Linked DNA regions of Homo sapiens: regions 1, 2 and 4 are each linked to region 3. The links come from fine-mapping of genetic effects on gene expression. A gene starts in region 3. Each other region holds a variant in brackets. All regions are shown on one strand. Distances are from middle to middle.

Region 1 (8,000 bases), 360 kb after region 3:
TGTTCCTGTGTTAGTTTGCTGAGAATTATGGTTTCCAGCTTCATCCATGTTTCTGCAAAGGACATGAACTCATCCTTTTTTATGGCTGCATAGTATTCCATGTTGTATATGTGCCACATTTTCTTTATCCAGTCTATCATTGATGGGCATTTGAGTTGGTTCCACATCCTTGCTGTTGCGAATAGTGTTGCAATAAACACACGTGTGCATGCGTCTTTATAGTAGAATAATTTATAAGCCCTTTGGTATATACCCAGTAATGGGATTGCTGTGTCAAATGATATTTCTGGTTCTAGATCCTTGAGGAATCGCCACACTGTGTTCCACAATGGTTGAACTAATTTACACTCCTACCAACAGTGTAAAAGTGTTCCTATTTCTCCACATCCTCTCCAGCATCTGTTCTTTCCTGAGTTTTAATGATCGCCATTCTAACTGGCATGAGATGGTATCTCATTGTGGATTTGATTTGCATTTCTCTAATGACCAGTGATGATGAGCTGTTTTTGATATGTTTGCTGGTCATATAAATGTCTTCTTTTGTGAAGTGTCTGTTCATATCCTTTGCGCACTTTTTGATGGGGTTGTTTTTTTCTTGTAAATTGGTTTAAGTTCCTTTTAGATTCTGGATATTAGCCCTTTGTCAGATGGATAGGTTGCAAAACTTTTCTCCAATTCTTTAAGTTGCCTGTTCCATCTGATGATAGTTTCTTTTGCTGTGCAGAAGCTCTTTGGTTTAATTAGATCCCATTTGTCAATTTTGGCTTTTGGTTGCCATTGCTTTTGGTGTTTTAGTTATGAAGTCTTTGCCCATGCCTATGTCCTGAATGGTTATTGCCTAGGTTTTCTTCTAGGGTTTTCATGGTTTTAGGTCTTATGTTTAAGGCTTTAATCCATCTTGAGTTAATTTTTGTATAAGGTGTAAGGAAGGGGTCCAGATTCAGTTTTCTACAAATGGCTAGCCAGTTTTCCCAACACCATTTATTAAATAGGGAATCGTTTCCCCATTTCTTGTTTTTGTCAGGTTTGTCAAAGGTCAGATGGTTGTAGATGTGTGGCATAATTTCTGAGGCCTCTGTTCTGTTCCATTGGTCTATATATCTGTTTGGGTACAAGTACCATGCTGTTTTGGTTACTGTAGTCTTGTAGTATAGTTTGAAGTCAAGTAGCGTGATGCCTCCAGCTTTGTTCTTTTTGCTTAGGATTGTCTTGGCTATACTGGCTCTTTTTTAGTTCCATATGAACTTTAAAGTAGTTTTTTTCCAATTCTGTGAAGAAATTCAATGGTAGCTTGATGGGGATAGCATTGAATGTATAAATTACCTTGGACAGTATGACCATTTTCACGATATTGATTCTTCCTATCCATGAGCGTGGAATGTTTTTCCATTTGTTTGTGTCCTCCCTTATTTACTTGAGCAGTGGTTTGTAGTTTTCCTTGAAGAGGTCCTTCCCATCCCTTGTAAGTTGTATTCCTAGGTATTTTATTCTCTTTGTAGCAATTGTGAATGGGAGTTTACTCATGATTTGGCTCTGTTTTTCTGTTATTGGTGTATAGGAATGCCTGTGATTTTTGCACATTGATTTTTGTATCTTGAGACTTTTCTGAAGTTGCTTATCAGCTTAAGGAGATTTTGGGCTGAGATGATGGGGTTTTCTAAATATACAATCATGTCATCTGCAAACAGAGACAATTTGACTTCCTCTCTTCCTATTTGAATCCCTATATTGCTTTCTCTTGCCTGATTACCTTGGCCAGAACTTCCAATACTATGTTGAATAGGAGTGGTGAGAGAGGGCATCCTTATCTTGTGCCAGTTTTCAAAGGGAATGCTTCCAGCTTTTGCCCATTCAGTATGATATTGGCTGTGTGTTTGTCATAAAATACTCCTATTATTTTGAGATATGTTCAATCAATACCTGGTTTATTGAGAGGTTTTAGCATGAAGGGCTGTTGAATTTTGTTGAAGGTCTTTTCTGCATCTATGAGGATAATCATGTGTTTTTTGTCATTGGTTCTGTTTATGTAATGGATTACGTTTATTGATTTGCATATGTTGGACTAGCCTTGCATTCCAGAGATGAAGCCAACTTCATCATGGTGGATAAGCTTGTTGATGTGTTGCTGGATTTGGTTTGGCAGTATTTTATTGAGGATTTTCACCATTGATGTTCATCAGGGATAGTGGTCTGAACTTTTTTGTTGTTGTTGTTGTGTCTCTGCCAGGTTTTGGTATCAAGATGATGCTGGCCTCATAAAATGAGTTATGGAGGAGTCTCTGTTTTTCTATTGTTGGGAATAGTTTCAGAAGGAATGGAACCAGCTCCTTTTTGTACCTCTGGTAGAATTAGGCTGTGAATCCATCTGGTCCTGGGCTTTTTTTGGTTGGTAGGCTATTAATTACTGCCTCAATTTCAGAACCTGTTATTGGTTTAGTCAGGGATTCGACTTCTTCCTGGTTTAGCCTTGGGAGGGTGTATGAGTCCGGGAATTTATCCATTTCTCCAAGATTTTTTAGTTTATTTGCATAGAGGTGTTTATAGTATTCTCTGATGGTAGTTTGTATTTCTCTCGGATCAGTGGTGATCTCCCTTTTATCATTTTTTATTGTGTCTATTTGATTCTTCTCTCTTTTCTTCTGTATTAGTCTGGCTAGTGGTCTATCTATTTTGTTAATCTTTTCAAAAAACCAGCTCCTGGATTCATTGATTTTTTGAAAATATTTTGTGTCTCTATCTTCTTCAGTTCTGCTCTGATCTTAGTTTTTTCTTGTCTTCTGCTAGCTTTTGAATTTGTTTGCTCTTGCTTCTCTAGTTCTTTTAATTGTGATGTTAGGGTTTTGATTTTAGATCTTTCCTGCTTTCTCCTGTGGGCATTTAGTGCTATAAATTTCCCTCTAAACACTGCTTTAGCCATGTCCCAGAGATTCTGGTACGTTGTGTCTTTGTTCTCATTGGTTTCAAAGAGCTTATTTATTTCTGCCTTAATTTCATTATTTACCCAGTAGTTATTCAGGAGCAAGTTGCTCAGTTTCCATGCAGTTGTGTGGTTATGAGTGAGTTTCTTAATCCTGAGTTCTAATTTGATTGCTCTGTGGTCTGAGAGACTGTTTTACTTCCAATTATGTGGTCAATTTTAGAATAAGTGCAGTGTGGTGAT[G/A]AGAAGAATGTATATTCTGTTGATTTGGGGTGGAGAATTCTGTAGATGTCTAGTAGGTCTGCTTGATCCAGAGCTGAGTTCAGGTCCTCAATATCCTTGCTACTTTTCTGTCTCATTGATCTATCTAATATTGACAGTGGGGTGTTAAAGTCTTCCACTGTTATTGTATGGGAGTCTAAGTCTCTTTGTAGGTCTGTAAGAACTTGCTTTATGAATCTGGGTGCTCCTGTATTGGGTGCATATGTACTTAGGATGGGTAGCACTTCTTGTTGCATTGATCTCTTTACCATTATGTAATGCCCTTCTTTGTCTTTTTTGATCTTTGTTCATTTAAAGTCTATTTTATCAGAGACTAGGATTGCAACCCCTGCTTTTTTTTTCTTTCCATTTGCTTGGTAAATATTCCTCCCTCCCTTTATTTTGAGCCTATGTGTGTCTTGCACGTGAGATGGGTCTCCTGAGTGCAGCACACCGATGGGTCTTGACTGTTTATCCAATTTGCCAGTCTGTGTCTTTTAATTGGGGCATTTAGCCCATTTACATTTAGGGTTAATATTGTTATGTGTGAATTTGATCCTGTCATTATGATGCTAGCTGGTTATATTGCCCACTAGTTGATGCAGTTTCTTTATAGTGTCAATTGTCCTTACAACTGGGTATGTTTTTGCAGTGGCTGGTACTCATTTTTCCTTTCCATATTTAGTGCTTCCTTCAGGAGCTCTTGTTTAAGGCAGGCCTGGTGGTGACAAAATCTCTCAGCATTTGCTGGTCTGTAAAGGATTTTATTTCTCCTTCACTTATGAAGCTTAGTTTGGCTGGATATGAAATTCTGGGTTGAAAATTCTTTTCTTTAAGAATGTTGAATATTGGCCCCCACTGTCTTCTGGCTTGTGGGGTTTCTGCAGAGATATCTGCTTTTAGTCTGATGGGTTACCTTTGTGGGTAACCAGACCTTTCTCTCTGGTTGCCCTTAACATTTTTTCCTTCATTTTAACCTTAATGAATCTGATGATTCTGTGTCTTGGGGTTGCTTTTCTCGAGGAGTGTCTTTGTGGTGTTCTCTGTTTTTCCTGAATTTGAATGTTGGCCTGTCTTGCTAGCCTGGAGAAGTTCTCCTGGATAATATCCTAAAGAGTGTTTTTGGTACATACGTTTAAACAACCAGATCTCCTGAGAAATCACTCACTATTGGGAGGACAGTGCCAAGCCATTCATGAGGGAACCATGCCCATGATCCAAACATCTCCCACCATGCTTCACCTTCAACTCTGGGGATTATATTTGACCATGATATATGGAGGGGACAAACATACAAATTATATCAAAGGCATAGCATGGCTACTGTGAAAGGAGGGTAAAAACACAAAGATGACATCACCACTGACCTCAGGGAGTGCCCAGTAGACTGAGGGAGACAAGTACATATTTTCCTGAAGGAGGGCACTGGATTGATGGCATGTTTAGAATGTGGAAGTAGAGCGGCCACAGAAAGGCAGCCCGGCAGAGTGCTCGCACAAAGACTGGGCTAGAGACTCCCCACTGCATGTGATGTATCTGAGGAAAGTCATTAAAATAGGTGATGGTCACTTTCCATCAAGTCCCTGGTATGGTCCATGGAGGCAGGGTTGTCAATGTCATTTCGGCATTTCAGAGGCCTCTCAGGGTTTGGATATGGCAGAAGACAACCAGCAATGATTATGCATTGCAGAGATGCAGGTGAGCCCCAATTTCTTGCCAGCTGGGAAGTCGGTGCTAAGGGGCCTTGCTGTCTTTCCTTGGAACATAGGATACCAATTTCTTTCTGGACAGAGAGTATTTGGTTGGCTAAAGTTAAAATCTAAATTTTGCTTTGGGATGAATTCCAAAAATATTAGCTTTATTCAAATTTACTTTCACTTTATCTTTCTGAATCTTCAAGGTCCTAAAGCATTGCTTAGTAATTTTGTTTCTAAACTCACGTTACAGCACTGGGCATGATCTGTCCAAGGCAGAGACTATAAGCTACTCTTATAGTACTCTTATGAGATACATACAAGTAGGTATCTCAAAAAATGATACTCATGTATTCCTGTTCTTATGAGTAAATCATTGGCAGTGAGTGTGATTTTTTTTTTTTTTATGACAGGATAAATACACGCCCTCTATTGGGGTCAGGTTTTGTGCCTGTAGTTCTTCCGCCTACTGTATCATAGCAGCTTAGAATCCCAGCTGCTGGCTCGGGCTGCAGTTCTCTCATGGCTCGCACAGGGTGGACCAGCCCCATTCCCCTATGTGTTTCTCTGCTGCTGACCTGTGGCTTTGCTGAGGCAGGGAAGCTGCTGGTAGTGCCCATGGATGGGAGTCACTGGTTCACCATGCAGTCGGTGGTGGAGAAACTTATCCTCAGGGGGCATGAGGTGGTTGTAGTCATGCCAGAGGTGAGTTGGCAACTGGGAAAATCACTGAATTGCACAGTGAAGACTTACTCAACCTCATACACTCTGGAGGATCTGGACCGGGAATTCATGGATTTCGCCGATGCTCAATGGAAAGCACAAGTACGAAGTTTGTTTTCTCTATTTCTGAGTTCATCCAATGGTTTTTTTAACTTATTTTTTTCGCATTGCAGGAGTTTGTTTAATGACCGAAAATTAGTAGAATACTTAAAGGAGAGTTCTTTTGATGCGGTGTTTCTTGATCCTTTTGATGCCTGTGGCTTAATTGTTGCCAAATATTTCTCCCTCCCCTCTGTGGTCTTCGCCAGGGGAATAGCTTGCCACTATCTTGAAGAAGGTGCACAGTGCCCTGCTCCTCTTTCCTATGTCCCCAGAATTCTCTTAGGGTTCTCAGATGCCATGACTTTCAAGGAGAGAGTACGGAACCACATCATGCACTTGGAGGAACATTTATTTTGCCAGTATTTTTCCAAAAATGCCCTAGAAATAGCCTCTGAAATTCTCCAAACACCTGTCACAGCATATGATCTCTACAGCCACACATCAATTTGGTTGTTGCGAACAGACTTTGTTTTGGACTATCCCAAACCCGTGATGCCCAATATGATCTTCATTGGTGGTATCAACTGCCATCAGGGAAAGCCATTGCCTATGGTAAGTCACCTCTCCTTTAGCACATTAGGAATAATCTGGCTTTGGAAATTAAAAAAAGATTCCTTACTGAATTGTGATTTGACATTTTCATTTGTTGCATTTCAAATTTCTTTCCAGTTTAACAGATTATTTTGTGCCAATTTATGTACTCATCAGTTATCAAATTTTATAAAACTGCCCTTCTTGAAGGTGTGTGTATATAATTTAAAAATTGTAGATCGTATTCAGCTTACATTTTTGAGTACCATGTTTAGAAAAGTACCAAAAACCACAGTAAGAAATTGAACTTTCCTTTTTTGCTAATTCTATGTGACCCCCTAGAGCAAATGCTCTTAGCAGTTTTGCATACATTCTTTTCATTAAAAAAAGTATTTTAGGTGTATATATTTAATTTAAAAATTATAGATCATATTTAGCCCACGTTTTTGAGTACCGTGTTTAGAAAAGTACCAAAAACCACAGCAAGAAATGAAACTCCCCTTTTTCCTAAGTTTTCTGACCCCTAGAGGAAATGCTCTTATCAGTTTTGTGTATATTCTTTTCAGTATAAAAAAAGTTTCATTTATATGCAATATCTAATGTAAATTCTCATACCTATTTTGTTAAAATAAACTTTTATGCTGTGCTGGACATATTCTTCTTTACCTTGCATTTTTTATTTGCCAATAAATTGTAGATTCCTTTATACACCAATACAGACAGATTTGACAAGTTCTTTTCATAATTGCATAAAAGTCTTTACTTTGGATGCTATGTAGTTTTTTAAACCAATTAATATTGATATATGTTTAGGCATTTTCCATTTTTGCTTTTATGAATAAGGCTGTGTAAACATTCTTTAATAATTTCCTTGTGTGAATATATTTCTATATTCTTGCTTTTATCTTAGTAGACTAGAGTCCTACATGTAGGGTTAGAGGGTTTTCCTGAATTGAGAAGATTGGCATCTTTTTGCTATTATATCTTCCTGTTCAGGAATATGTGTGTCTCACTATTTATTCAGGTCTTGTTTTATATACATAAATAAAAATTTTCACTATATAAGCATTTATGTTTGTTATTAACATTTATTCCTTGGCATTTTATGATTTTTGAAACTATTTTTTTACAGGGTAATTTTTCCATTTCTACAATTAACTGACTATTGGTAATTAAAGTTTTGGTTTTTGCGTATGTATCTTGTATCCAGCCACATTACTAACTTTTCTTATTATTTTGTAGTATGCATTAGATGTACAATATGCAATACCATCTGCAAGTAATTCCCTTCTCTGATATTTATACTGCTTCTTTTGCTTTGCTGGAGCATATACTTCCAAAACATTATTGAGTAATATTGTTAGAGTAGCCAGTTTAAATAGGGATTTGGTAGCTTGTGACTGAAAAATCCTTGAAAAATACCAGAATAAGATTCTTGGCAAACGCATAGTTGCTAAATCCAGATGAAACACCTGGTGTCTCATCTCATTATATTATTTTATTAGGGATGGAGTATACATTTTTGTCTATTGTTCTGGCTTCTTATAAGGTTCAGTAGACTTTGTAACAGTCATATCTGTCATTGGCAGATGGTTGGTGAAAGAGTGACCGTTCAGCCATCTCACAGGAAAGTGAAATAATGCTCTTTCTAAAAAGCAGGAAGACTACAGTTGTAGGCCTTTCAAAATTAGGCATGACTTTCAGCTCACGGCAAGATCAGGTGAAGAGATGCAAGTTGCAGGACTCTAAGAGGTTGGACGTATCAAAGCACT
Region 2 (8,000 bases), 430 kb after region 3:
AGAGGAGGTCCCTAGTCTTTTTGAATTTTTGATGAGTTCCAACAGAATTAATGACTGGTTTTAGGTGAAAAGAATTCAGGCTTTGTCTATACCATCCATGGCAGGTGCGGCTCTGGGGGTGGGATATGGTTACAGATAAATAAGAGATCTGTGCTTCCCCCCTTGCTGTAAGATTCTGGCTATAGTCCAAGATCCAAATTCAAAGTTAGCTTTTGGTGGACAAGACTAAGGCCTCCCACTAAAATTATTTACTTCAAGTTTTTATTTTCAAAGTTTTCAAACATACACAATGGAGAGACTCAGTGTAATGAGCACCCACTTATCCATTCTTAGGTTAAATAATTTTCACTATTTTGCTCTACTAATTCATCTATCCCTTTATTCTATCTTTTTAAAGAAAACTTTTAAAAATAAATTTGTATGTTTTTAAAAAGAAATTCTTGGCATGTCATTCCATCACTGAACAATTCATTTAATATAAAAAATAAGAAAAATTTGTTACATAGCCACAATATCATTATCATATCTAAGACAATAAAAATTCTTTAATATTATCTCATTTACAGTCCATAATAAAATTTCCCCGGATTGTCTCACACAACATCTTTCCATACAGATCAATGGAATAGAATGGAGAATTCAGAAATAAACCCATACATATACATCCTTGGCCAATTGACTAGGTGCCAAAGTTTGACAAGTGTGTCAAGATCATTCAAATGGGAAAGAATAGTCTTTTCAACAGAAGACCCACCCTGGGGTCCTTGAGCTCCAGCGTCAGACTCCAAAACCATTTGTGGAAATCATCCAGCCACCTCCCACCATGCCTCTGATGAATCCTTCACCGATGGATTCATCAGAAGCATGGTTGATGATGAATTCACTGATGAATCACCCCTGTGTGCATCCACAGGGGTCCTGCAAATATTTTCTCACAGTCTGTTGAGTGACTTTTCTTACAAATACTTCATTGTAGAATAAATATAGGATTATAGCAAGGTTACAACAAATAGTTTAGAGAATTTTCATCTACCCTGTGTCCAGTTTCCACCATTGTTAAATCTCATGTTTCTATGGCACATCCATCACAACTCATTCACCAATATTGACGCATAATGATGAGCTAAAAGCTAAAGTCTGTTTCCTTCAGATTTCATTAATTTTTACTTAATTTCCCTGTTCTTTTATGGGATCCCAGTGATACCACCTGAAATGTAGTCATCATGTCTCCTTTGTCTCCTCCAGCCTGTGACGGTTTCTCAGACTCTCCTTGTTTTTAGTGACTTGGGCAGTTTCGAGCAGTCCTAGTCAGGTGTCCTGTAGAATGTTCCTCTAGAATGTCAGTGTGTGTTTTGCCTGATGTTTTCATCGTGGTAAAACTGGGTTTATAGACTTTTGGTAGGAAGACACAGAGGTCTTTTCTTGTTTTCTTGCGTGTGAATATTCAACTGTAGAAAAACAGAACCTTTTCTCCACTGCATTGCCTTTGTACCTTTGTAAAAACTTGGTTGTTCATACATCTGTGCACGTATTTCTAGACTTTGTATTCTGTTCTGTTGATCTATTTGTGAAATATTTGATTACTATAGCTGTGTAATAATCTATAAATGAGGTAGTGTTACCTCTAATTTTTTTTTTCAAATTGCTTTTGCTATTGGAGGTCTTTTGCATTACCATATGCATTTTAAAATAAGTTCATTAATGTGTGCAAAAATCCTGCTAGGATTTTGATTGGGATTGTATTTTATTTATAGATCAACTGGGGAGAAACAACATCTTAGCAATTTTGAGTTTTCCAATTCATTAACATATCTTTTTATTTAGGTCCGTCATCAGTGCTCTGTAGTTTTCAATGTACAGTCTTTCACATCCTTTGTCAGATATATCCCTAAGTATATCATGTTTTTGATGCTATTTAAGTGGTATTTTTAATCCAGTTTTCAAGTGTTCATTGCTAGTATAGTTGACCCCTGAACAATGTGGGAATGAAGGGGACCAACCCGTGTGTAGTAGAAAATCCGCATAGAACTTTTGATTCTCCAAAAACTTAACTACTAATAGCCAACTGTTTACCAAAAGCCTTGCCAATACCATAAACAGTCAATTAACACATAGTTTGTATGTTATTAGTATTATATCCTGTATTATGACAATGCAGCTAGCTAGAGAAAAGAAAATGTTATTAAAAAACGTAACATATGAAAAAATGCTCAACATCACTAGTTACCAGAAAAATGAAGATGAAAACCACAATAAGATATCATCTCACACCAGTTAGAATGGCTGTTATTAAAAAGTCAAGAAATAATAGATGCTGGTGAGGCTGCTGAGAAAAGGGAACACTTGTACCCTCTTGGTGGGAATGCAAATTAGTTCATCCCCTGTGGGAAGTAGTTTGGAGATTTTGCAAAGAACTTAAAACAGAACTGTCATTCGACCCAGCAATCCCATTACTAGATATATGTAAAAAAAATCGTTTTACCAAGAAACACATGCACTGGTATGTTCATTGCAGCTCTATTCAGAATAGAAAAGACATGAAATCAACCTAGGTGCCCGTCAACAGTGGCTTAGATGAAGAAAATGTGGAACACATACTCCATGGAATATGCAGCCATAAAAAAAGAATGAAATCATGTCCTTTGTAACAACATGGATGCAGCTGGAGGTCATTACCCTAAGGGAATATATACAGGCACAGAACACCAAATACCATTGTTTTCACTTAGAAATGGGAGCTAAATAGTGGGTACTTTTGGGCATAAAGATGGCAACAATAGACACTATGGACTCCTAAAAGGGAGAGGAAAGGCTGCAAGAGTTGAAAAACTATTGGGTACTATGCTCAGTACTTGGGTGATGGGAGCAATCATGCCCCAAACATCAGCATCACACAATATACTCAGGTAACCTGCACATGTACTCCTGAATCTAAAATAAAAGTTGAGTATGTATAAGAGGAAGTCATTCATCATAAAGGTCTCCATCCTCATCATCTTCCATTGAGTGGGCTGTGGAGGAGGAGGAGTAGATGTTGATTTTGCTGTCTCAGGGTGGCAGAGGCAGAAGAGGTAGAGGAGGTGGAAGTGGAGGCAGGAGAGGCAGGTGCACTTGGTGTAACCTTATGGAAATACATCATAATTACTGTCTGTTTTTTTCTCTTTGATGTATTTAAAAATGCTTTTATACAGTACTAATCCTTCTTCCCCATTTGCTTTAGTTTCAGTGCCCATAAGGGTTCATGTCTTAATAGAAGTCAATAGCAGTCTTAAATAATTGGAAGCATTTCTATGAGGCTTGTATTGTGTAAGGCCAATTTTTTTTCTGGCACTGCTTCTTCTACATCTTCTTTCTCATCAAGTACTGATTGGAAAGCACTCATCTCTATCAGGTCATCTATTGATTCCCTGAGTGTGGCATCTATTGGCTCTTGAATTTCTCCAAGAGTCATATTTTGAAATACCTTATCCCCAACATTTTGTTGCTGTATCCATAATCCCTTCATGACTTCCTTGATTGGCTCTGTCATAAATCCTGTGAAGTCATGTGCAACATCTGGTCACAGTTTTCTCCAGAAGAAATGTACTGTTTGGGGCTTGGTGGCTTTCAAAGCTCTTTCTATAATAACAGTGGCATCTTCAGTGGTGTAATCCTTCTGGACTTTCATGACATTCTCTATCCAGATTCTCTTCCATAGTATTGACAACCTTTTCCA[T/C]AGAAAACTGTGTGTAATGAGTTCTAAATTTCCTTAAGACACCTGATTGAGAGACTGAATTAGAGATGTTGGGTTTGGAAGCACGTAGACCATTTTGACACCTTCAGTGTTGAACTTGTGGGTTCTGGGTGGCTAGGGAATGGTCCAATATCGAAAGAACTTTAAAAGACAGTCCCTTGCTGGCAATGCATTTTCTGCCTTCACGGACAAAGCCTTGATGGAACCAATCCAGAAAACGCGTTCTTATTGTTGAGTCCTTCTTTTTGTACAACAATAAAACTGTCAGTGAGTGTTGATCTTTTCCTTTCAAGGCTTGAGGTTTGGCAGTTCTACTGATGAGGGCAGTCCTGACTGTAAACTTGACTGCATTTACACAAAACAGTAGAGTTAGCCTATCCCTTCCTGCCTTACATTCTGGTGCTTGGTTTTCTTCCTTGCCAATAAATGTCTTTTGTGTCATCTTTTTTTTTGTTTGTTTGTTTTTGTTTTTTCCAGAATAGGGCACTGTCATCTGTATTAAAACCCTGTTCAGGCAGATATCCTTTGTCCTCAATGCTTTTCTTCATGGCATCTGGGAACTCATCTGCCTCCTTTTGCTTGGCAGAGGCTGGTTCTCCTGTTATCTGGACAATTTTAAAGCCAAACCTCTTTGTAAAACTAGCAAACCATCCTTTGTTGCCATTAAATTCTCCAGTTTTAGATTCTTCACCTCTCTTTTGCTTTAAGTTGTCATAAAATGACTTTAATTTTTCTCAAATCACATTGGCATCTATAAATAAGCCTTTCTTATAGCAATCCTACACCCACATTAAAGTTGCATTTTCAATATGAGACAAAAATGTATTTCACAAAAAGATGCGAGGTTTGGCTCCTGCTGGCATAGCTGCAGCAATGTCTTCATGAATCTTTTCTTCTCTTTTCTTTCTTTCTCTCTCTCTCTTTTTTCTTTTTCTCTTTCTTTCTTTTGCAATGGTCCTTATCTATCTTCATTGATTTTGAAATGGCAGGCAATCATAGCGGCAGAGCTCAATCTACGGTACCTATCAAGTAATTCAAGTTTTTTTGGTAATGTCATGATTTTTCTTTGCTTCTTGGGAGTACTTGCAGCATCATTAGTTGCACTTTATAGTCCCATGGTGGTATTCAAGGTTTAAAAAATTACACTAAACATGATGAAAAATACAGTAGAACCATAAGAGATCATTTTTTACTCTGACATGCAATTTACTAGAGAGAAGAAACGCGCAGAGGGTATAAACGTCATATCACATGCATTTAGGCCACACTTTAGCTCCCTGCAATAGCAACAGGAGGTAGCAACAAAATTATTATAGTAGTGTAGTATGTACTAGAGGAAAGTGACTAAGCAAATGTCTAGTACCAGTTAGGGTGTCCTGGAAGGAACCATCTTGTGCTTCTACAAGAATTATGCCCTGAGGTTGGCTGTTGAATCCCTCACGAAATGCTCCTCAGTGTGTTGCCTAACACACACTGCTGAGCTCACCCATTAAAATCTGCATGATGGAATTCAGCCCAATGCAATGAGAATTCCCATGGACTTCCTCTGTGCAAGGCAAAGCATGGGTGCTGTGGAAGGAGGATGAAAACAGGTAGAAGATGTAATCTCATCCTCAAGGGGTGCTCGGTAGAATGGAGGAAACAATACATAGATTCCTGAAGATGAGCACCAAAGTGATTGGGGTGGGCCCATAGCAAAGGCCTGCAGCTCTGTTCAGAATGCAGAAGCAGAGTGGGCAGAGAGAGACAGCTCATTAGAGTGCTTGGGCAAGCATAGGGACGGCGACTCACCACTGCAGACAATGTATCTGAGGAAAGCCATTTAAAATAGGTGACAGTCACATTCCATCAAATTTCTGGAAGGGTCCATGGAGGCAGGGTTGTCAATCTCATTACAGCATTTCAGAGGCCTCAGAAGATTTGGAAATGAAAAAAGACAAGCAGCACTTGTGGCTCACCTGTGTCACAATTGTGGCTCACCTGTGTCTCTGCAATGCGCAAGTGAGCTGTGTATTGCAGAGACACAGGTGAGCCGCAATTTCCTCCCAGTTAGGAGGTCAACGCTAAGACCCTTGCTCTCTTTCCGTCGAACATGAGATGCCAATTTCTTTCTGGGCAGAGGACAAAATAAAAATTGTCTATAAACTTTGGCCAGGTGTAGTGGCTCACGCCTGTAATCCCAGCATTTTGGGAGGCCGAGATGGGCAGATTGCCTGAGCTCAGGAGTTCGAGACCAGCCTGGGCAACATGGTGAAACCCCGTCTCCACTAAAATACAAAAAGTTAGCTGGGCATGGCAGCGTGCGCCTGTAATCCCAGCTACTGAGGCTGAGGCAGGAGAATCGTTTGAACCCAGGAAGTGGAGGTTGCAGTGAGCCTAGATCTTACCACTGCACTCCAGCCTGGATGACACAGTGAGACTCCATCTCAAAAAAAAAAAAAAAAAAAAAAAATTGCAAATTTTTCTTTGTGACAAATTCCAAAATTATTAGCTTCGTTCAAATTTACTTTCCTTTTTATCTTTCAATGTCGTCAAGGCCAAAAGCATTGCTTAATAATTTTGTTTCTAAACTCATATTGCAGCACAGGGCATGATCTGTCCCCAAGGCAAAGATGATGAGTTACTCTTTTCTTGAAAACATATAAGCAGGTATCTCAGCAAAGGCTACTCATGTATTATTATGAGTAAATCATTGGCAGTGAATGTGAATTTTTTTTTAAATGAATGAATAAGTACACGCCTTCTTTTGAGGGCAGGTTCTATCTGTACTTCTTCCACTTACTATATTATAGGAGCTTAGAATCCCAGCTGCTGGCTCTGGGCTGAAGTTCTCTGATGGCTCGTGCAGGGTGGACTGGCCTCCTTCCCCTATATGTGTGTCTACTGCTGACCTGTGGCTTTGCCAAGGCAGGGAAGCTGCTGGTAGTGCCCATGGATGGGAGCCACTGGTTCACCATGCAGTCGGTGGTGGAGAAACTCATCCTCAGGGGGCATGAGGTGGTCGTAGTCATGCCAGAGGTGAGTTGGCAACTGGGAAGATCACTGAATTGCACAGTGAAGACTTACTCAACCTCATACACTCTGGAGGATCAGGACCGGGAGTTCATGGTTTTTGCCGATGCTCGCTGGACGGCACCATTGCGAAGTGCATTTTCTCTATTAACAAGTTCATCCAATGGTATTTTTGACTTATTTTTTTCAAATTGCAGGAGTTTGTTTAATGACCGAAAATTAGTAGAATACTTAAAGGAGAGTTGTTTTGATGCAGTGTTTCTCGATCCTTTTGATGCCTGTGGCTTAATTGTTGCCAAATATTTCTCCCTCCCCTCTGTGGTCTTCGCCAGGGGAATATTTTGCCACTATCTTGAAGAAGGTGCACAGTGCCCTGCTCCTCTTTCCTATGTCCCCAGACTTCTCTTAGGGTTCTCAGACGCCATGACTTTCAAGGAGAGAGTATGGAACCACATCATGCACTTGGAGGAACATTTATTTTGCCCCTATTTTTTCAAAAATGTCTTAGAAATAGCCTCTGAAATTCTCCAAACCCCTGTCACGGCATATGATCTCTACAGCCACACATCAATTTGGTTGTTGCGAACTGACTTTGTTTTGGAGTATCCCAAACCCGTGATGCCCAATATGATCTTCATTGGTGGTATCAACTGTCATCAGGGAAAGCCAGTGCCTATGGTAAGTTATCTCCCCTTTAGCACATTAAGAATAATCTGGCTTTGGAAATTAAAAGATTTCTTACAGAATCATAATTTATCATTTACATTTGTCCCATTTGGAATTTCTTTCTGGTTTAAGGAATTCTTTTGTACCAATTCACTTAATTGTTGGGTAGCAAATTGTATAAAGCAGCTCTTGTTGATATGTAAGTGTATACAATTGATATAATTGTAGATCATATCTAGGCTGCAATCTAAATGCTATTTTTGGAAAAATACAAAAAAACCACAGTAAGAAATGAAACTTCCCTTTTTTTGCTAATTCTACACTACCCCCAGAGGAAAATATTCTTAGCAGTTTTGTGTGAATTGTTTTCAATTTTTTTGAAATTATACTATGTATATGCATATATTTAGGGTAAATTGTCACTTCTATTTTATCAATATAAAATCTACTATCATGCTGGCTATGTTTTTTTATGTTAGATTTTTCTCTTGTCAATAAGTTAAAGATATCTTTACAGGTCAATGCATACAGATTTGACATGTTCTTTTAATAATTGCATGGTAGTCTTTACTTTGGATGCAATGTAGTT
Region 3 (8,000 bases):
ATTACAGGTGTGAGCCACCGCGCCCGGCCCAACTTTTTCATGCATATGTAGTATATATATATATAATGTCTACCTATTAGAAAATGCATATAAAATACACATATAAGAAAAAAACCCAGCAACACCACTGCCTACAGATAATACTATTATCAGTATTTTCACATATTCCATTCATTAATTAAATAACATTTACTGAGCACCTAATACATAAAGGGCTTCATGCTCTTGCTGGAGATATAATGATGTGCAAAAACAGACACAGCTCTTGTCTCATGGAGTTTACAGTCTACTGGGGGAGACAGACCTTTATCAAGTAATGATACAAATACATGTGAACCTATAACTGGGATCAATGCTATAAAGGAGAGGTACACGCGTAACAGGGAGATAAGATCTGTAACAGGTTGTGAAGGTCTCTCATCCTACTGTTGCGAGGAAGTGACTACTGAAATGAGAACGAACACACAGAAATTAATTTGGAGAAGTCAGAAGGGAAGATGTGCCCAACACAGTAAATCCAAAGGCCCTGCAACGAGAGGGAGCACGGTAAGCAGAAGGAAGTAAGAGGCTTCAGCGTGGCTGTGGTTGTGTGCTAGATAAAGCTGGTGAGTTAGGAGGAGGGCAGGACTAGCAGAGCTTCATATTCTTTCTTTAGAAATTATTCTTCATGTGTTCAACAAATATTTGTCTATGATGAGCTAGGGACATACTCATTTTACATAAATTATGACATATACTGCTGTTACTATCAACAATTTCCAGCAATAAATGTACAGTAATTTAACCAATCTCTTATTGTTGGAAATGTAGATTTTTTTCTCCAACTTCTCATCATTATTATAAACCGCAATTACTTTTACACCAACCTAAAAACAATTCTGCAACAAAGATTTTTGTATGTGGACATGTGTCCAAATATTTCTTGGCATAAATTCCTGCAAGTGGAATTGCTGGTTAGGCAAACTGCAAATTTGTAAACATATTTTTATATATATAGAGAGAGAGTCAGGGTCTTGCTCTGTTGACCAGGCTGCTGGAACACAGTGGTGCTATCACAGCTCACTGCAGCCTTGACCTCCTAGGCTCGAGCGATGCTCCCACCTCAGCCCCATCCCAGTAGCTAGGATTACAGGCACACGCCACCACACTCAACTAATTTTTTGTATTGTTGTAGAGACAGGTTGTGTCATGTTGCCCAGGCTGGTTGGTCTCAAATTCCTGAGCTCAAGTGATCCTCTCACCTTGGCCTCCCAAAGTGTTGGGATTACAGGTGTGAGCCACCATGCCCAACCTTGGAAACATATTTTAATCATAAATGTGGGAAATTAACATGCTCAACTGTCAAGATTTGGTGTAATGGTCTTTTAAGGGTGGTGCCACTGCTGCATTTGAAGGCATTCTCGGTCACTTTCAGAACTTTTTCATTTTCTTCAGCGTGTGAGGAAGTCACTTCTATTTCTGATCCCATTGGATCCTTCCAACGACTTCAGGTCCACTCAATACTGACTACCAGTGAACCATCTTCAACTACAGTGCTAGAAGCCTGACTGTCCTCCTCTCCTCAGCCTAAGTTCTTCTTATCTGTCTCTGAAGGACCTTCCTCTGGACTTGAGACACACTGGAAGAGAAGGTAGTTTCTGATATTCCTTTCCTCTTTTGGCCAACTACTTTGTCTGGCTCCATTTTCATGCAGTAAATTCACTAATTGTTAAAGGCAGATGGAGCTCCAGCAACTCTATTACAGAACTGGGTTTTCCATTCTACTGAGCTTGTTCACAGACACAACTTTCTCAGGAGCCAGTGTGTCTTCATCTCCCCCTTTCAACATCTACAGCCTCAGATTACCTTCTAAGGCTCCATTTATTGTCAGGCCACAATTTCTAGGATTCTAACAATGAAGACAAACTCTGATACACAATTCACATCTTTCTTAGCTCCCGTTTCCAGTTCTCTTCTCCATTGCAAACAAAAACAAAAACCCCAAACAAACCACAAAACCTGTTTCCAAGTTCAGTGGGACACTCTTCCCAACGCACCCTGACTTCAGGTATGTAAGAGTTAAGAAACAAGAAAGAAACACGAAAAGCAGCTTAACAATCAAAGACAGGTTTATTTTGGAGAATAAACCTGAGAGGGGCTTCTTGTCGATTTTGGTCAGGAGCGTTTTCTCTTACACACTAAGGGTGTTTAAGGGTTTACGAAGCGGTGAGCTTATTGCAGGTTCGTAATGTTTCTGTATGAGGGAAAGTTTATTGCAGGGTTGGAAAGTCTCTGGCCGGAGGGGAGGCTATCTCTGGGTTGGCATGTTTCTGGTTGGAAGTGGGTTTATCTTAGGGTTGGAATGTTTCTGGTTATGCTGACATTAGCCATTAGGCTGATGTTTTTGGGTTGGATTTAGGCAGTTTCTTAATCAAGGGGAACTTAAAATGGTGGCAGTTGTCCAAGATGGCAATGCTCCTGCTGTCAGGGTAGGCCTTGGGAAGACACCAGGTGTCTTTGTAAACTTAGGTTTCCCCTGTACCAAGCACAGTGCTGACTGCATTACATGGGTTTTTCTTTTTACTATTCGTGACAACCTTCTGAGGTAGGTATCATTACTGTCCCCATTTACAGATGAGACAACTGAGGCTTAGGTAGGCTGTCACTCATCCACAGCCACAGAGCTACTATGGAGGGAACCCCATTTGTTCCTAAACTGCGATTAAAAATAAAAGTGGGGGGAGACAGGCCAAGAAAAAAAACACGAAAAGGGTTGAAAAGCAGCAAAAGAAAAGTAAGCAGTCAGGCGGAAACGGCCCCTTTCCTGCCTCCTTCCCGCCCGGCGCTGGGCCTTGCGCAGGGCCCGGACGCCCCCAAGCGGCCACCTCTCTGCAGCTGACGCTTCCGGCTACAGGCTGGCGTCACTAGCGAGCGCCCTGCGTAGGCACCGGCTCCTGAGCCCGTGCTTCGGGTGAGGGGGCGGGTCTTCCGGCCCTCTCGAAAATCATTTCCGGCATGAGCCGGAAGACCGTCCCGGATGGCCTCGGGGACTGCCAGTGTGTGGAGGTGAGCTCCGGGATTGCCGGCATTCCCGCTTCTGCTGGTTGCTTCATGCTGCAGGCTGCGGCCGTCAGCCCTCGCTCGCATTGGTGGCGCTGAGGTGCCGGGGCAGCAAGTGACATGTCGTCGGGCCTCCGCGCCGCTGACTTCCCCCGCTGGAAGCGCCACATCTCGGAGCAACTGAGGCGCCGGGACCGGCTGCAGAGACAGGCGTTCGAGGAGATCATCCTGCAGTGTGAGCGGCGCCGGTGCGGGCTGGGAGTGGGGCGGGCGGGCCCCGCGGAGGCATGCGGGGCGTCAGCGGGAACCTGAGGCCGAGTCCCTGGCGCCGCCCGCACGCATGGCGGCCGCCCCGGGTAACCCGCGCTTGGGACGCCGCACGCCTTTTAAATGTTTTTTCTAACCTGCGTTTTATCTTTGGAGGATTTTCCCTATTAAATTGTACGATCTTTGTGGGGAGGCACAGTTCGTGTTTGTATTTGTAAATCCCAGTAGCTCATACAATGCTTATGCACTTAAATAGGTCCCAGAAACATCCCATCTATGGGGTCATGTTAATGAAACGGTCGTTGACTTTCAGTCGCAGAATTAACATTGCCTTCTCAATGCACTGGAACGGGTGGCCTTTGATTCCTCAAACTTACTTCCCTTACTCCACCTTGGTGGTTTTTTTTGCGGGGAAACGGGATAGGGGATCAGGGTCTTGCTGTGTCGCCGAGCCTGGAGTGCAGTGGCGGAGATCACGGCTCACTGCAGTCTCAAACTCCCAGGATCAAGTGATCCTCCCACCTAAGCCTCCCGAGTAGCTGGGATTACAGACGCGCTTCACCACGGTCGGCTAATTTTTTTAAAAAAAAATTTTTTGGAACGAGGTCTCACTGTGTTTCCCAGGCTGGTCTCCAACTCCTGCGCTCAAACGATCTTCCCACCTCGGCCTCCCAAAGTGCTGGGATTATAGGCGTGAGCCACCGAGCCCGGCCCCACCTTGGTGTTAATATCGTAATATCTTTTAGGCGGGACAGAACCTTTACTGTTACTGAAATCTTCAGTATGAAAGAGGTGGTTTTCTTTCCCCTTACTGCTTGCAGCTTAAGGGTACAAAAATGTTTGTACCTTTACCTAAATTATAATGGTCCTAAGGTGGTTCCATCTGCGTCTGAAAGTAAACCTGACGACTTTCTCAAGTTATGCTGTTGATGATATTCAGAATAATAATTGCTACCTTATATTGCATTCTGATTGTGCAAAATCAGTAGTTCTCAAACTTAGCTCCACATTAGAATCACCTATGGATCTTTAAAAAATTACAAATCCCAAGCCACACCCCAGACCAACTAAATCACAAGTATCACAGTACACAAGTATCAGTGTGTGTGTGTTTGTGTTTGTGTGAGATTAAGCCTAGAACTGCATGCCAAGTTATCAGTGTTTTTTGATGCTTCCCAAATGACTACTGTGCAGACAAATTTTAGTACTGTGGTAAGTATTTGCATGTGTTATTTTATCTTTCCCAAAATTCTGTGTATGAAGCAGGAACTGTTATTGCCATTTTCACACATGGAACTGAGGCCAAGAGAGATTAGGTAACTTCTGAGGTTGCACAGCAGGTTAATGGTGAGACTGGGTTTTTTTGTTTTTTTTTTTTTTTTTTTTTGGAGACAGAGTCTTGCTCTGTCACCTAGGCTGGAGTGCAAGTGGCGTGATCTCAGCTCACTGCAACCTCCACCTCCCAGGTTCAAGAGATCCTCCTGCCTCAGCCTCCCTAGTAGCTGGAACTATAGGCAAGCACCGCCACGCCCAGCTAATTTTTGTATTTTTAGTAGAGACAGGGTTTCACCATGTTGGCCAGGCGGATCTTGAACTTCTGACCTCAGGTGATGTACCTGCCTCAGCCACCCAAAGTGCTAGGATTACAGGCATGAGCCACAGTGACCAGCCGGGACTGGAATTTGAACTTAGGCTTGATGACTAACTTTTGCATTTGCTTTTCTCACTGGCTCCCCCAGCAAATGGTTCTTTGCTTTCACTGCACCCATTGTTTTAACAAAACTAAGAAGAAAGAGGATGCTTTGCTGTTCTAGGAGGCCCTGAAGAACAGTGCTGTTTCAGAAAGCCAGAAGCACAAGAAGTCCCTCTTCCTCAAAACATGATTCCCTGACAGATGACATAAATCAGTTCATTAGGTGCTTATTAGGTGCTTATGCTTTAAAAGCTAATATCCTTTGAAAGTCAAATTGGGTGGGAGGCTTGACTCACCCCTCACTGAACATTTTCACTTACTTTCTGAGTCTGTTTTGCCTCATCTATAAAATGGGGATGAAGCTTGCCCTGCCCACTTCATAAAAACAGTGCTGTGCATATAAGTGCTTTCAAAGCCATCTGTATAATAGCTTGTAATTGTAAAGCGTTATCTCTTTGACACAAATGGAATGTTTTCCTGCACTTTGAAAATGGCATCTTGATGGGGCAGGAGCATGTAGAACAGTCAGAATAAGAGGTCACTTGTGGAGAGCAGATAGCTTTAAAGGGTGCTAGAGTAGCGAGTAATACCTGCCTGAGGGACCAGGACAGGAGACCGGGATGAGAAGCTAACAAGAGGCAGGAGAGTGAGACAGGCTTTGCATGTTAAGATCTTCTGTTTAGGCAGAGGGATTGACATTTAGGGAGATCATTTCTATTATAGTTTGTGAAACACCTTCATTCCACTCATTCCAGCCTTCCCAGGCCAGTCAAGCTCTGACCCTCCATCAGCCTGGAGTCTATTCTCTGTTCAGTCCGTGCCTTTGAGTCTGAAGAGAAAGGTGGAAAGAAGCCGTAGGGGGAGGGAAAGGCTTCCCTCCATCTCCAGCCTTCTCTTCAGGGAGGAACCTTTGGGAAGGACTCCTTTTGAACGCCTGTGTTTTTTGAAAGAACCTAAAATTATCACAGGGCACTAAGCTTTGGTTTAACATCTGAAGGTCTTACTAGAGCCCTTTGACACTGGTGGATTTTAAACCATAATTTCCCAGGTTGAAACCAATGTCCAGTTTGGCTAATTCGTTTGACCAATAGATGAGAGTGTTTCTACCCAGGAGTTCTCTTTTCAGGTATCAAAAAGTGGGACTCAAAACTCTTTAAAAGGAGAAACAAGCTCTTTTAACAGGAATAGTCACTAGCATAAACCCTGTCTTGTTCTGCTTGGTACCTGCAGAACAGGTACCCACATCTGATCTTACTGGTGCCTGTGTACCTATTACTCTTATTTTTTATTTCATTTCATTTGTTTATTTATTTATTTATTTATTTAGAGACAGTCTCACTCTGTCGCCCAGGCTGGAGTGCAGTGGCGCGATCTCAGCTCACTGCAACCTCTGCCTCCCGAGTTCAAGCGATTCTTGTGCCTCAGTCTCCCTAGTAGCTGGGACTGTGGGCAAGTGCCACCGTGCCTGGCTAATTTTTGTATTTTTAGTAGTTTCGCCGTGTTGGCCAGGCTGTTCTCGAACTCCTGACCTCAGGTAGTTTGCCTTCCTTGGCCTTCCAAAGTGCTGCGATTACAGGCGTGAGCCACAGTAATAGGCCTGTGTGCCTATTACACTTAACTACGTGTTCTTTCTAATCTTGTGTTTTGAATTTCTGTACTCTGTCTCCTGTCAAATTTATTATGTTTGGAAAGAGAACTCATTTCCTCTCTAAGCTCTCCCCTCTTGTGTTCTCTCACACGTTAGCATCCTCCGCCCAGTTGCTTGAGCGAGGAGCCTCAGAATAATCCTTGACTTTTTACCAATACAGATCTGTTAGCGTAACGGCCTGCTTTTATAATCTTTTATTTAATCATTGCCAGTAAGAAGTCTAAATTTCTGATCCTGCTTTTTCCTGTGTTGGCTCCAACCTTTATTTCCAGCCACTTACCAAAAGACTCTGTTATTCCTTCTGCATGGCCCATCATCTTCTTTTAAGACTTAACTCATATATCACCTCCTGTGACACCATTCATAAAAATGAGTACAGAGTGTATTCTCTGTACCTTTTTATACTTGACTGAATTAAATGTTAACTCCATGTTGGAGACTGTCATTTGTATTTCTAGTTCCCTGACCTAAAAAGTAATTAGATATGTCAACTTATGGTAAAGTTCTCCTGTCTTACTTAAAGGTACATAGCATTTCACTTTGCCATTGTGTTTAGTGTGTTTTTCTTTTTTCCTCCCAAGGTAGAAACAAATAACTTCTGGGGTAGAAAGCATTTTCAGCTCCCTTTAATAGGGAAGACATTCTTGCAGGTGATTCTGTAGGTTACTGTGGCTGAGGAATGTATGTTCCTGTATTGCATCCTTCAATACATGACAAGGTAGGTACCTAGCAAGTGTACATACGTTGTAATAAATAACTTAGTTTCTGACTTTTTTATTTTAATAGATAACAAATTGCTGGAAAAGTCAGATCTTCATTCAGTGTTGGCCCAGAAACTACAGGCTGAAAAGCATGACGTACCAAACAGGCACGAGATAAGGTATTTTGAAACTAACTTGTATTATTTATGTCTCCTCTAAGGAAATTTATCTCAGTTCAGTTGTCACTTCTCTAATTTAAAAGCAAATCAAGTACTATTTCTGTGTTCCAGTTTTTGTCAGCTCCTTTCAAATAAGAACTAAAACCATGTAATTACAATTGTTTTTTAGAAGGTATGTCATACCTAGAAAGGTTATTATCAGTACAGTGCTCTGAGCTTGAGAAATTTCTTAAGGCAGGTTCACGTGGTAACCCTAGGTCAGTTTCTCATCTAACCTGCCAGGATTCATGTTTTTTTGTTTCTTTGTTTTTAAATAATCACAGACAAGTATTTCTGAGCGGGTTTGTGTAGATCCTGTTAATGTAGGATTGATTGGCACATACGTAAAAATTGCTTTCCTGCAGTATGGGTCTATTTGATCCTTTTTAGGTTGGTGTTTTTTTCAACATACAAATGGTCCCCAACTTGCAGTG
Region 4 (8,000 bases), 33 kb after region 3:
AAATAATTTAAGACATTAGGTTCTTGAAATTATAACATAACTTACCCGATTTCTCTGCCATTCTCTGTATCTTAAGCCAAATCCATGTTAAAGAAAGATGGAAATAGATTATAGGGTTAATTGCTGTATCAACTCTGATAAACCCTTGGGTTCTGCTTCATGCATTAGGCTTGTGATGTTACTCAGTACTTTGTATAATTTCACTTAATAGTTGTATTTTGAGTGTATAGATGCTGTACTCCAGGGGCCAGCGTGGTCTCTACCCTCCGAGATTCGCCATCTAAATGAGAGTGATGGGAAAGCATTAAACTGCAAAGCGTTGTGCTGAGTTATGGCTGAGATGTGTGTGGAGTAGAAAGGAAATACTGATGAGAGAGTAGCTCATTCTGGGGCAAGGGTTAGGGGCCATAGTAAGGCATTTAAAGCAGATCTAAAGATAATCAAAGGTCAGAGGCAAAAAGCCAGGGACGGACACCACAGGCAGAGGGAGCAGAGGAGGTTGGGCTGGGCGAGTGCAGGAGCTTGGGTGGAGGTGATGACTGGGTGAGGCCAAGGTAGCGTCCTCATCTACCAAGAGTCCTTATCTTGATTGTCATCTCTGGGGAGCCTTGTTCACATTCCTGGGTGGGCTGAGTGTCTATGTTCCCAGCATCTTGTGCAAACCTATTCTATGGCACGGTGGTGGTCTATATCTGTTTCTTTTACTAAGCTGAGAGCTGACTACCTGAGGACAAGTGTCTGGGCGTTAATCATCTTTGTACCCCCAGCACCTGGCACAGTGCCTATTAGGTTCTAAATAACCACTCCTTGAATTTAATTGGGGAATGATAAGGAAATAAGGTTGGAAAATGAGGGTATGTTGTATTGAAAGGTTTAGACTTTTGTAAAGCCATGTGGAGACTTGAGAGATTTTTAGAAATGGGTATGGTGTTAAGTTGTGGTGGAACTGTGACAGTGCTGAAGACTGGCTTGGAGGAAGCAGGTCTGCAGTGGCCCGTGCGTTCAGTGCTTCTGCAGAGATGCAGAAGGCCCAGGTGGGGGCTGAGGAAATAGGGGAGAAAGGAGAGGACCAGGCTCGACACATTGAAGATGAACAGTTCTCAGAGTGAGAGTTGGGAGATTAGGCAAGGAGAGAGTCAAGGGTGCCTCTGAGGTTTCTGACTTGTTAATATTTGCTGCTAGTGAAGGTTGCCAAGGGAAAAGTGAGTAGGGAAGGCTGGGTTCCATTTGGAGCTTGAGGTGTCTGCAATATTCTGATGAAATTGAGCAAGCTCAGAAAAAAAAAGGTCTGAACTCGAAGGAGACTGGCGAGTTGAAGCACACTCACGACAGTAGCTGGTATTCAGGCTGGTTGTATAGGGTGAAGCATCTAAACCTTCTTGTACTTGATTATTGGGGAATTTATATCGTGTGAACTGAATTCCTCTGATTTGGCTAAAAATTGGTTTTCCTCTTCTTTATTCCCACAGGGATCTTACCTCTTAGCAGCTTCAAATGATTTTGCAAGCCGAATCTGGACTGTGGATGATTATCGATTACGGGTAAGACCCAGTTAAGAAAGTTAGTGCAATCTCCAAACTTCATGTGGTGTTATCAAGGCACAAACTGGCAGGTGCTTAATTAGGGGACTTTGTTTTCCCAAAAATCATGCTTGATTCACCCTGCCCTTCCTTTCCTCCTTGGGGAAATCTGTGTTTCCACTTTATACTCTTTGTCCAAAACTCAGTTTCAAAATATTTGCAATGGGACCCTCACATTTGCATGAAAACCTTGGAATACTCTTCATAAGGACTAAATACTTTGGTAGATAGCAATTTTGGCTTAATGGCACAGAACTTAGCAACAGCATGTGAATTGTGATTCCTGTGGGCTCTAAAACCTAATTACCTAAAGTGGGATATAGAAGTACAAATGGATGTATCATAGGGATAAGACAATTCTGAAACAAAAACTCCAAGCTGAGAAAGAGGGGACAGGTGTCAGAGCAGGGAGAAATGATTGGATGTTGAGGAAAGCTGCATTTGAACCAAAACTTGCCAAGAATTCTCTTGGCATCTGACAGAGAGACCAAAACTTGGTTGTATCATTTTTGATTGGGGCAGGGGGCGGAGGGCGAAGCATGTAACTTAATTTGCAGACATTTTTTTTCCCCATAAGCCTGAAGGAATCATCACATAAGCTTATTAAATACAAGCTATTGAAAGATATAATGGAGGATGAATTTGGCATTAGTAGGCATTTTACTAAAAAAAAAAAAAATTTTTTTTTAAAAAGTTAACACAAGCCGTTTGTGTGTGTCAACCCACACCAAAAACAGAGGAAGTAATGTTAAGATGAATTTTTTTTCTTTTTTTTTTTCTTTTGAGATGGAGTTTTGCTCTTGTGTGGGGTACAGTAGTGTGATCTCAGCTCACTGCAACCTCCGCCTTCTGGGTTCAAGCAATTCTCCTGCCTCAGCCTCCTGAGTAGCTAGGATTACAGGCATGGCTAATTTTTATATTTTTAGTAGAGATGGGGTTTCACCATGTTGGCCAGGCTGGTCTTGAACTTCTGACCTCAAGGGATCTGCCCACCTTGGCCTCCCAAAGTGCTGGGATTACAGGCGTGAGCCACTGTGCCCAGCAAGATACATTTCTTTTTTTGTTTTTTGAAGGCAGAGTCTTGCTCTGTCATCCAGGCTAGAGTGCAATGGCGCAATCTTGGCTCACTGCAAACTCTGCCTCCTGGGTTCAAGCAATTCTCCTGCCTCAGCCTCCCGAGTAGCTGGGATTACAGGCGCCCGCCACCACGCCCAGCTAATTTTTGTATTTTTTTTTAGTAGAGATGGGGTTTCACCATCTTGGACAGGCTGGTCTTGAACTGACCTCATGATCCACCCACCTCGGCCTCCCAAAGTGCTGGGATTACAGGCGTGAGCCACCGTGCCCAGCCTAAATTTCTTTTTTCTTTTTTTTTTTTCTGAGATGGAGCCTGTTGCCCAGGCTGGAGTGCAATGACGTGATCTCGGCTCACTGCAACCTCTGCCTCCCAGGTTCAAGTGATCTCCTTCCTCAGCCTCCCAAGCAGCTGGGATTACATGCATCCTCCACCACGCCCGGCTAATTTTTGTTTCGTTTTTTAAATTTATTTATTATTTTGAGATGGAGTCTTGCTCTGTCGCCCAGGCTAGAGTGCAGTGGCATGATCTCGGTTCACTGCAAGCTCCACCTGCCAGGTTCACGCCAGTCTCCTGCCTCAGCCTCCTGAGTAGGTGGGACTACAGGCACGTGCCACCACACCTGGCTAATTTTTTTGTATTTTTAATGGAGATGGGGTTTCACCATGTTAACCAGGACGTTCTCGATCTCCTGACCTCGTGATCCACCTGCCTCAGCCTCCCAAAGTGTTGGGATTACAGGCCTGAGCCACTGCGCCT[A/G]GCCCAATTTTTGTATTTTTTTAGTAGAGACGGGGTTTCCCCATGTTGGCTAGGCTGGTCTCGAACTCCTGACCTCAAGTGATCCGTCTGCCTCGGCCTCCCAAAGTGCTGGGATTACAGGCATGCACCACCACGCCTGGCCCAGATGAATTTCTTAAATCTACAAGGGAGGTGGAGGAGCTGTAGTAGAATGGTATATTAGGTGGGTTTCTGGTGATTTTCTTGAGAGGGTTGTATAGATTATTAGTATTAGATGCTAGCCAATACCTCAGGGGTGGTCATTCTTAATTCACAATTTAAAGAAGATCCAGGTCCGAACATGCAAAATAACGAGCCCTGACGATGACAAGGACATGTTGTGAGAGCTGAGGAGCCTATGTTCTTGTCTTAATGACGGACTAGGGAAGTGCACTGCTAGAGAGCCTGCCATGGGGCACACCAATTCAGATGCTTGAATAGGGTCATTTGAAGCCCTGTAGTTCTGTACTGTACACATGGAAAAGATGGCCTAGCCGGTACTCATGGCTACGTTCTAATCCATCCTGTGGTATACTGTGATTTATCTATCCATTGATCTTTTATTCTAGACTGAGATACAGTAAAACTGACCAATTATTGAAGAGGGGCCTACAGCCTTTTTTTTATGATAGTCCCTTAGAGGAGAAGAGGAAGAAGTTGAGTCAACCAGTAGTGCAGGATATTTTTTAATTGGTAATAGAGGAGTCCTATACAGGTGGGCATCAGCCTTTGGGTCAGAAATAACAAGAAGGGGACCTAGAGCAGGGAGCTAGACTGACAGATGAAGGTCATAACATTGAGCTGGCACACAGGTCTCACTGGGGAAATGTTCTCAGTATGCTGGAGCAGGGCGCAGGCTGCTGGGCTGCTGCTTCTGATGATGCCGTGCTGGGGCAGGAGCCTCCTGTGCTGGACTAGTTGGCTTTTGAGTTTCTGGCCTGCTCATAACCTTGTCCTGTTACTTGGTAAATGTGTGAAGATTGGGAGGCCTGTTTCAGCAGATTCCCTGCACCCAGAGAAGTCTCCCGAAAACCTTACCAGGTTCCAGAAAGTAAAATAGGCTCCTTATTCTAGGGAGTGCTGGCTTTTTTTTAGACCCCAGTTAACAGATGGTACTGGAGGACAGGAATCCATTCATCTATGTTGTGAAACTCACAGACATCCATGCCCTGTTCGGTGTCTCCTTTGCTCTTACGACAAGGGAATGGTGTTGGGAGAGACTGGCAAACAAGAAGCAGCTGGTTGAGTGCTTGCTTTAACATCCTTTTTGTAAATGCACCCTAGAAACAACCTGGCATTGAAAGGAGTCCTCTGTGATGCCTCCGTTAAAAATCTAAAGTCAGTACAAAACTGCCTGGCTGCTTGGTAAGATTTGACTTGAGAAACTTGCTTGAGAACCCCCCTGCCCACTTCTCTCGTGGTGTGGTGAAGTGGCCACAGTGAGGATTGGCTATGGCTGCTAGGTGATGGTTTCTGTTTGGAATGTTCCTCTTTGAGTTCTGCATTCTTCTGGAATCGGCTGTCTTTGGTTGGTGTTATGTTAGCTGCATGATTAAGTTGTTACCTGAATGAGCAATTTTGTGTTTAGAAATAGGGGTCGGCACTCGTTATCTGCCATGAGGCACAGAGATAGTCTGTGCAGAGCCCAGTGGAGCAGAGAAATCTTGAAGCCTCCCCACTTTGAGGCCCCGGCCTTGATGACATCTAAACCCGCTGCCCCGCTATTGTTAATCCCTGTTTAAAAGTAGAAGATGAAACCTAAAAGTGTTGTTAATCATAAAAATGAATTTCAGAAACACCTAACAGATAGAAGAATTTTAAATCTGATCCATTTCAAAGGACTCTATAAATGATAGAGGTGAATGAATGCCTGTAGGAGGCCCAGCTCTATACCATTGGAAGCACCGAGACAGTGAGTCAGCCTCAGGCAGCTCCAGCTTATTCTCACTGAGAATAAGGTGAGCAGAAGCCCAAACTTTTTTTTTTTTTTTTTTTTTTGAGACAGTGTCTCGCTCAGTCACCCAGGCTGGAGTGCAGTGGCGTGATCTCTGCTCGCTGCAAGCTCTGCCTCCTGGGTTCACACCATTCTCCTGCCTCAGCCTCCCGAGTAGCTGGGACTACAGGCGCCCGCCACCACGTCCAGCTAAGTTTTTGTATTTTTAGTAGAGACGAGATTTCACCGTGTTAGCCAGGATGGTCTCGATCTCCTGACCTTGTGATCCGCTCACCTCGGCCTCCCAAAGTGCTGGGATTACAGGCATGAGCCACCGCGCCTGGCCAAGCCCAAACATTGTAAAGAGCAAGGTGACAATACGTACGAGGAGCCAAGAAACAAAACGTCCCTTTCCCTTATTCCATTAGTTCAGCAGTTTCATTCCTGGAAATAAGTCAAGAGAAGAAAGCTGTGTGCTCATAGATGTTCACTGCAACAGCATCTGTGACAGACTCTTAAAGAAAGGGAGGTGCAACAAGGAAGAGATTTGATCCCATTCATCTTGCTGAGTCCGTACTAAGATAGCACAAGGATGTTTCCTGTTCACAGATGTTACAGAGACCCAGGGTGTTCAAATCAGTGGAACCCCAAAGCCCATGAATTTTCAGCTATCACATGAAAAAATGCTTACGCTATAAGCTTAAAAGAGTAATGGATAAATTTTTAGGAAGAGTATAATTGTGTAAAGATTAACATGTTCCTGTGAAGTATGTAAAAATGAATATACAGATGGTCCCCAATGTAGGGTATTTTCATCTTACAATGTGTTTGTCAAGACTGGCCCCATCATAAGTTGAGGATCATCTGTACTTGCCATATCCCACTTATGAACAATGTCTTTTTCTACCCTGTGTTTGTGAAATGTGATTTTACTCTTAACATTAAGAAAGAAACAGATAGTGAATATAAATACAAATTTGAAATTTTGATAAAATAGTTATTCAGAATTTAATGTAAGGCCGGGCACAGTGGTTCATGCCTGTAATCTTAGCACTTTGGGAAGCCGAGGCAGGCGGATCACTTGAAGTCAGGAATTCAAGACTAGCCTGGCCAACATGGTAAAACCCCGTCTCTACTAAAAATACAAAAATTAGCTGGATGTGGTGGCACACGCCTATAGTCCCAGCTACTCAGGAGGCTGAGGCAGGAGAATCACTTAAACCTGGGAGGCGGAGGTTGCAGTGAGCTGAGATCACGCCACTGCACTCCAGCTTGGGTGACAAGAGTGAAACTCTGTCTCAAAAAAGAAAAAAAGATAGAATTTAAGAAGTAGCCTACCCAAGTTTTGTCTCTGCCCATGATTTGTGCAGAGTGGATGTTTTATATTGAATGGAATCATTATTCATGGACTGTATCTAGTGTAGGCTTTGTTACTGGAGCTTTCTTGATCTTACGGAAGGATCAGTGGGAGGTTTTCACACAACCGCAGCACAGCCGGCACCCGACTGGCAGCAGTTGTAAGATGCTGTCCCAGTTTCAGAGGTTTGAATGTGGGATAAGGCAGTCTGAGAACTCATACAAGCTTCCCTCATTGAAGCTGAGAGGGGAGTATATGTGGTCCGAAGTTTTCGCTTCTGTGCTAAAGTGGAGTTAACCCCACTGAAAATAGAGGAAGGATTGGTTTCAAAAATGTTAACACAAAAAAAATCTAACCCTGAACCATGAGGTCTCATCTTTGGGAACTAAGGTTTGGAGTGCAGTGGCATGATCTGGGCTCCTTGCAGCCTCGACCTTCTGGGCTCAAGCAGTCCTCTCACCTCAGCCTCCCCTGTAACAGCTGAGACTATAAGTACCCACCACACCCAGCTAATTCGAATTTTTTTGTAGAGATGAGGGTCTCACTAATTTCCCCAGGCTGGTCTCAAACTCCTGGGCTCAAGCAATCCTCCCACCTTGGCTTCCCAAAGTGCTAGGATTACCAGTGTGAGCCACTTTGCCAACCCTTGCATTTTCTAATTAGAAAGAAAACATCAGTGAATACCTTCTGAACCTCTGGTGTTTTACACATAGAAAAATGTTGATCATGCACTGCATAGAGGTCAATGATGAATGGTAAAAGGTCTGAGTCCTCAGATCCCCTCCCGGCATCCCAGTTATCCCCAGCTGCCTCTCCTCCATCGCACTTCAGAAGTGCTGCGATGGGCAGAAGGGCAGCTGACACTCCGTGATGTCCCTCATTCTGTGTTCCTCCGTGAGCTCAGGGAAGACACTGGTTGGCATCCAACAGCTTAGTCACAAAGGGATTTGATTGTTGGGAGTGCTGGTATCTGTGGCTATGATCTGCCTTGTTCAAGCTGAGACCTCTGATTGAAAATCCCCCAGGGGTTTTAATTGTTTACATAAGGAGTCCTGATGTTTCCTTTTGTAAATTATGCCTGTGGTGACCTTGTCTAGTCTGACTTTAAATATGGAACTGACTTTCAGCAGCATGGCGCAACATCGAGGCTTTAAAAATTCTTTAATTTGATATAATTCAGACATAGAAAAATTACAAAAACAGTACAGCAGGTATCTGTGGTAGAGCTGATTTCAAATTCAAGATTGAGGATGGGGAGCACGTGAAGCTTGGTGCTA

Alleles and levels. Positions count from the first base shown, and alleles are read on the strand shown. Sizes are in standard deviations (SD) of each study's normalised expression. Not every link is listed here.
As copies of A replace G in region 1, the expression in stomach of the gene that starts at base 3,005 in region 3 goes up (moderate effect, 0.74 SD a copy in GTEx).

What was found. PIP is the estimated chance that this variant, and not a neighbour inherited with it, causes the effect.
Region 1: its variant is fine-mapped to the expression of ATG16L1 in stomach (GTEx, PIP above 0.99).
Region 2: its variant is fine-mapped to the expression of ATG16L1 in transverse colon (CEDAR, PIP 0.95).
Region 4: its variant is fine-mapped to the expression of ATG16L1 in whole blood (TOPMed, PIP above 0.99).

What each region holds. Positions count from the first base shown.
Region 1 is chr2:233,612,314-233,620,313 of GRCh38, forward strand. It overlaps UGT1A8 (UDP glucuronosyltransferase family 1 member A8), which reads left to right and starts at 5,320. Exons shown (of 5, transcript NM_019076.5): 1 at 5,320-6,249. The coding sequence starts at 5,395. It also overlaps UGT1A. The variant G/A (reference allele first, on the strand shown) is at 3,161.
Region 2 is chr2:233,675,370-233,683,369 of GRCh38, forward strand. The region is part of intron 1 of UGT1A8 (UDP glucuronosyltransferase family 1 member A8); the gene reads left to right. All of the region lies in intron 1 of UGT1A10 (UDP glucuronosyltransferase family 1 member A10), which reads left to right. The region is part of intron 1 of UGT1A9 (UDP glucuronosyltransferase family 1 member A9); the gene reads left to right. UGT1A7 (UDP glucuronosyltransferase family 1 member A7) reads left to right here and starts at 6,532. Exons shown (of 5, transcript NM_019077.3): 1 at 6,532-7,423. The coding sequence starts at 6,569. It also overlaps UGT1A. The variant T/C (reference allele first, on the strand shown) is at 3,716.
Region 3 is chr2:233,248,669-233,256,668 of GRCh38, forward strand. It overlaps ATG16L1 (autophagy related 16 like 1), which reads left to right and starts at 3,005. Exons shown (of 18, transcript NM_030803.7): 1 at 3,005-3,274; 2 at 7,434-7,527. The coding sequence starts at 3,160. RefSeq lists an enhancer at 2,593-3,292.
Region 4 is chr2:233,281,213-233,289,212 of GRCh38, forward strand. It overlaps ATG16L1 (autophagy related 16 like 1), which reads left to right. Exons shown (of 18, transcript NM_030803.7): 12 at 1,470-1,541. It also overlaps SCARNA6. Among named protein-coding and RNA genes, the nearest start is that of SAG, 23 kb to the right of the region's middle. RefSeq lists an enhancer at 7,472-7,973. The variant A/G (reference allele first, on the strand shown) is at 3,416.